Linked DNA regions of Homo sapiens: region 2 is linked to region 1. Evidence: fine-mapped expression QTL. A gene starts in region 1. The other region holds a variant in brackets. All regions are shown on one strand. Distances are between the middles of the regions. Region 1 holds the start of PTPRB (protein tyrosine phosphatase receptor type B). Region 2 overlaps PTPRR (protein tyrosine phosphatase receptor type R).

Region 1 (2,926 bases):
GACCACTACTCTGGAGCCTTGTTTCTGGAGAAAGAGAGAGGCATTTTCCACCTCAAGGAAGCCTTCCTGATCATAGCAGGTCCATCGGGGTGCCTGGGAACAGCGGTCCAAGATGGCTGAGCGGGAGGGGCCGCGGGAAGAGTTGGAGATGGCCAAGCACAGTGCAGATTTAACATGAAGGAGCTTTTCATCCTCAGTCCACATCCACTGCTGGTTCTGGATGGTCCTGTTGCATGAGCCCACGACCACTTTCTCATTTTTGAAAAGACACTGTTGTTTCTGGACATGGACAATCTGAAACCCTTCTGGAAGATGAAAAGCTCATAAAGCACTATGTAGCAAATTATGAGGCCCATTAGAAAACGGAAGAACCCACCCACAAATGAGCTAAATAAAATCACTAGTTTTACTTATATTTTGTTATTTCTATCATTTCAAGTGAACATTCTCATATTTAACACATGTGATTTAAAATTCCAAAGCTGACGATATAAAATGTCAATATGTTACACTTAACTCCCCATCTTTTTTTTTTTTTTAATTTTCACATGCTTTAGGGGAAAAAAGCACACCTCTTATTGGAAAATGAAAGGAAGCTTGGAAAGAAACAAAACCATCCAAAGTATATAGTATATTTTAGCCCAATTAGTTAGATATGCTGAAGTTATGAAATGCTCAGCTCCCTTTTTAACCATTTGACATATTCGATATAAGCTTCCTCCCTTACCTTAAAAAAGCACCCCCTTTTCCAGTCTTTAAATTCACATTGCAGTATTTATATACAAATTTCATAGTTTGAATAACAATTTTTTAAAATTGCATACATTTATCAAAAAATAAAACAAATTTTCCCACTTCTCCAAGCACAACCTCCTAGCTAATTGCAGCCAATGAAAGTATTGATTATCACAAACTAAATTTCCTTTAGTCGTGGAGAGGAGCATTTCTCTATTTTATGACAATATCTACAGTTTTCTCTCAAATACGAATAGATTTTCTAAAAATCATCATGTGCCAGTGTAAGAAAATTAAACATCAAATTGCTAAACATCAGTATTAAAGAGCAAGATACTCTGGCTCAGAAACCATTTTCAATGAGGTTTTACTTAAATTGCCCAGCTCGCTCATGAAAATGTTCAGCCCTCCCAAATGACAACTTCCAAATAAAACACACTACATTTCCTCACCCCCTTTAATCATATTCCTTCAATTTTCTTTCTTCAACACAAAAGAAAATAAAACTATAACCGGGTCGGAAAAAGGCTTGGGGAAAGCCACAGACTGTTATATAATAATACAAACTTTTCCTCGGGGTTCTTTACGCTCTGCTCTAAATGTATCATTTCAGGGGCTGCCTGAAGCATTTGGAGGATGAGAGGAGAGCATTTATTTTCTTTTGGAGAGAAATCTCAACAGTATGGGCATAGCTGGCTCCTTTTATTCCTGCTTTTCATCGTCTTTGGCTAAACTGCCATGGAGACCTGGCCCCTTCTACCTTATTTCAGACACTTCAAAGACCAGGGACTCCTTGGCTAGATCTTGAAGAAATGCCTCAGGACACTGAGGCAGACCCACTCACCTGAGTTCCTGAAGATCAAGCAGGTAAGAATCACCATGTAAAATTCAGCCTCCATTTTCCACTTAGCAACTGTTCATGCTTCGCTTGGGGAAAAAAAAAATTCTCCCAGATAAGAGAAGCAAAGACTAGGAAGGAAATGTGCCTTCATGGTGGGGGGAAAAGTCAGTGACGAGCACTTCCTCCTATTGAATTGTTTGGGGAAGTTTTACACCAGTGTCCTTTTGTCTGTTTCCTTAGAAAGAAGGGATTATGATTACCTCTTTTTTTTAATGTAGAAAATATTCCAGCCTTCAAGAGCAGAGTAAATCTCGTTAAGACCTCACCTACCTTTCCTTTGGCATGTGACTGCTTCTTAACCTCAAGAAGAAAGAAAGGAATTGAAATCTCAGATAATTGAATGTTCCTGAAACATTACATCTCTTCAGGTGATGTGATTCTGCTGAATAAACATAAGCCATGTAATTGATGAGGGTCTATGACAAGTGATATAAAGACATAAACATGTACTGTTTGTATAATGATATGCTGCGAGTCTATTGAGGAAAACCACATAATGATGGCACTTCTAGATCATTATCTCCCAAGTGATGACAATATTACATTTTGAGATCGTCATCTTCACTGGGGAGATGCAGACACTAAAATTAAACCCATCACATTATCTACTTTGGTCTTCCCCAAACAGAGGATGGCGTCTTTCCAAATAGAAAAAAAAAAAAGAATATGCTTTACTCAGTATTTAGTATTAAGAGTTTATTGGCAGTATGAAACAAAGTCAACATTGCTGCATTAAAAATTCATATATGAGCAGAACAGCTAGTGTTTGCTGAGGGTAGTTATTTTAATTTTTTTTGTCTCTTGAAGATTGAAAGCTTTCAGAAATGTAAGGACATACATGGAAATGTCCTTATAAGGAGCCTCGAAAATGGGACAGATTATATCATTCCTGAAGGCATATACCTTTTGTTGAGAGAGAGATTCCAGGTAGATAGCATATTCAAAAATCCCTTCTTAGCAAAAGAGAGACAAGTAGTTAAAACTCTTGATACTTCAGAGTTGCTACAAATTTGTTTTTCCCTTTTAAAGTAAAATGACTCACGATGTGGAAATACAGTGGATAGAGTTCTGGAGCAGAAGCCACCTTTATGCCCAATAATAGAGAGTAAATACATATATACCCAATGACAATCATTGTGCTCTGTAATTGTTTGATAGGAGGGACTATAAATACACATTTAATAGGTAATATTATCAAGACACATTTCCATATAAAATAGTTACTGTTTTTGATTTTTGTTTTTCAAAAACAAAGACTTCTCTGTTAAAAATCCATTATCAATCACTTGC
Region 2 (2,926 bases), 28 kb after region 1:
ACTCGGAACCTGAGTCCAAATTTTGGTTCTACCATTCATTACCTGTGAATCCACGAACAAGATACTTAAACCCTTTGGTTATAGTTTCTTTATTATTGGCTATCTGGAAAGTACTTAGGATAAAGCCAGGCATAGAGTAAGCACTTACAACATGTTATTATTGCTGTTGTTATTTTAAAACTACTGGGTGATAGGTTTTTGGCCCAAAGTGATTAGATCTTCATGCATTAAATATTATTTTGGTATTATTATAGTCAGTTATCATTATTAAATAAAAATTGCAAAATGAGATTCAAGCATACATATAATCTCATTTTGCTTTTTAAACAACTGTAAAATAACTATTTTTTACCACAAATTTTGATGATAAAGAATGTAAAATGACAAATGTTTATGTTTTATTTTGAGTGCTCTTGGAAGCAATGTTAATTTTAGAAATGTTTAAATAGCACTTATTTTCTCCCAACCATACATACATTTACATAGAAATTCTTTCATTTGTTGCCTTCAATCAGAACCTTTTAATACCCAGGACACTTGTTTCTTCACATCTTTGTCAAAGGCATATGAATACACTTGATAAAAATTTAAATACTTATAGATTTAAAAGAGCAGCAAAAGACTCACAAAATTATAGAACTGAAGGAAAAGTGACACAAAGTATCAGAAACACACCTCCAGGGCTCTATTATGCTAAGTACCACTACTCTACAAGCTAGCACAGCGAAGGAAGTCACTTCACCTAGCAGAATCAGTTTCTTTCATCCATTACAATAAAAACACATTTACATCCTCTACATTTTGACCCTTTTTCTAAATGAAGTAAATTGTTTCAGCTTTATTTACATGCCACCTGAGACTCTCAGGCTATCAGACCAAAAGACTTACTCTGGCTGACTTAATGTTAACATTAAGAGAAGAAACCTTTTTAAAGTAGAGCAACTCATTTCTCTCGAAATCTATGAGTTGCCAAATGTCTAAAATTTTCCCACTTTGTTAAAGGTAATCATACAAACCAATTTGCCTGGTTTCTTTCAATGAAGCATCAATTATTTCGCTGTAAGACCCGAGCTACTGTGTATCTTAAAACCCATGCCTCCCGATGAGTCCAAGAAGAATGACAAAGAATCTTGGAAAAGGTATTGAACAAAGAAAGAGGCATTCATTCAGTAGTCCAGCAGTCTGGCGTACGTGCCCCATTGTCCACGATCAGACCTGAGCAGCAGGGCCCTCTTTAGGAAGGTGGCTCTCAAAACCAGTAAGAAAAGCTGCAAAGCAGGA[G/T]CTTGCCGCCTGCACCCTGACTCTTAATACTTGCACAGGCTTCTGCACCTACTTGATAAATGGAAATGCTGCTCGCTTCTCTCCCAAGCTTGCCGGGGGCCCTCTTGAATGTTTTTTTTGACTCGTTACCAAAAAAGCAATTGGCAGTCAGCTCCCAGTAGACAATGCAATGTGACTTGTTCATTCAAACAACCCTTAATTAGCATCCCATCTCCTTTCTGAGATACAATAGCTTATTTTTACACACTGAATACATTTTTCCCTCATTTAGATGACAGAAAAAGAGACCAGATAAGTGTGGGTACTTTTGAATATGAGGTGGGGGACAGCTGCAAATGCAGTTGTTTCTAAGAGTACAAGTTCATGTTCAAATTATTTTCCTGTACAGCTTTTTAGGGTTTCTTTATTGTGGTGCTAACAATGAGATAAAAGAGGCAGAAAAGGCAGGGAAGAAAAATGCTGCCTTACAGATAATACTGTGAAACCACACTAATTGTAGGTGATTCAAAATAGCATGCTATTTAGCAGAATATAACCCCAAATCATCACTATTCTTTTGCTAGCTAGGCTTATCCTTTCAGTAAAATTATCTATTAATTCTAAGAATCCATAATTTGGAAGAAAAAAATAGGTTTCCAGAGGACAGTGTCTCTTGTGCAAACAAGTTATTATCAAACTCTGACTGAAAAGATTCTGGACATTAACCAGTGCTTTGTAACTGGTGGTTTACAGCAAAAGTAGGATGTAACACAAAGCAATGCAAATTCTTTTTTTTTTTTTTTTTTTTTTTTTTTTTTTTTTTGTGATGGAGTCTCATTCTATCACTCAGGTTGGAGTGCAGTGGCACAATGTCAGCTTACTGCAACCTCCACCTCCCGGGTTCAAGCGATTCTCCCGCCTCAGCCTCCCAAGTAGCTGAGATTACAGGTGTGCACCATCACGCCCAGCTAATTTTTGTATTTTTAGTAGAGACGGGGTTTCACCATGTTGGCCAGACTGGTCTTGAACTCCTGACCTCAGGTGATCTGCCCACCTTGGCCTCCCAAAGTCCTGGGATTATAGGCGTGAGCCACTGCGCCCGGCCGCCAGCTCATATTTTTGTGATCTTTTTTCTTCCCTTGATTCTCCTTCTGGCCCCCACCAAGTTAGGGCTATGTGAGGAGGCGGTCTAGCTAGTTGTTTAGTTGCCTGAAAAAAAAAAACCTATTTTTAAGTTATTTTCTTTTTAGTTTCTATATATTTAAATATCAGAGATATTGCTCTATAAGCTAAAGATCTGTATCATCACATAGAATGTGGCTCTAAGTAAATAAAATCTTCATACTTAGCTTCATTTGGGTTATATTAATACATGAGAGGGATAGAATGGGTCAGGTTGTCTAAAATTATTATTACTATAGCTACTTTTATTCCTGGTGCTCCGATGGAATATTACTGACATAGGCTCAGAGATTTAAGTACCTTCACCAACATCATATCATTTAGCCCCTTCCACAATCCTTTGAAGTAGGTAGGGTGGGTAGCAGGTATTATTATTATTTAAATTATTTTTCAGATGAGGACATGAAGGCTCAGGTGTTTTGGTAGGGGAAAATTGCCTTGGGGGGCTAGAATTTTCCAAGAAAATATCACTTTATGAATGAAA

The links.
Region 2: its variant is fine-mapped to the expression of PTPRB in blood mononuclear cells (TOPMed, PIP above 0.99).

The regions. Positions count from the first base shown.
Region 1 is chr12:70,635,762-70,638,687 of GRCh38, forward strand. It overlaps PTPRB (protein tyrosine phosphatase receptor type B), which reads right to left and starts at 1,668. Exons shown (of 34, transcript NM_001109754.4): 1 at 1,580-1,668; 2 at 1-305. The coding sequence starts at 1,634. PTPRR (protein tyrosine phosphatase receptor type R) reads right to left here. Exons shown (of 14, transcript NM_002849.4): 14 at 2,318-2,926.
Region 2 is chr12:70,663,317-70,666,242 of GRCh38, forward strand. All of the region lies in intron 10 of PTPRR (protein tyrosine phosphatase receptor type R), which reads right to left. Among named protein-coding and RNA genes, the nearest start is that of PTPRB, 27 kb to the left of the region's middle. The variant G/T (reference allele first, on the strand shown) is at 1,282.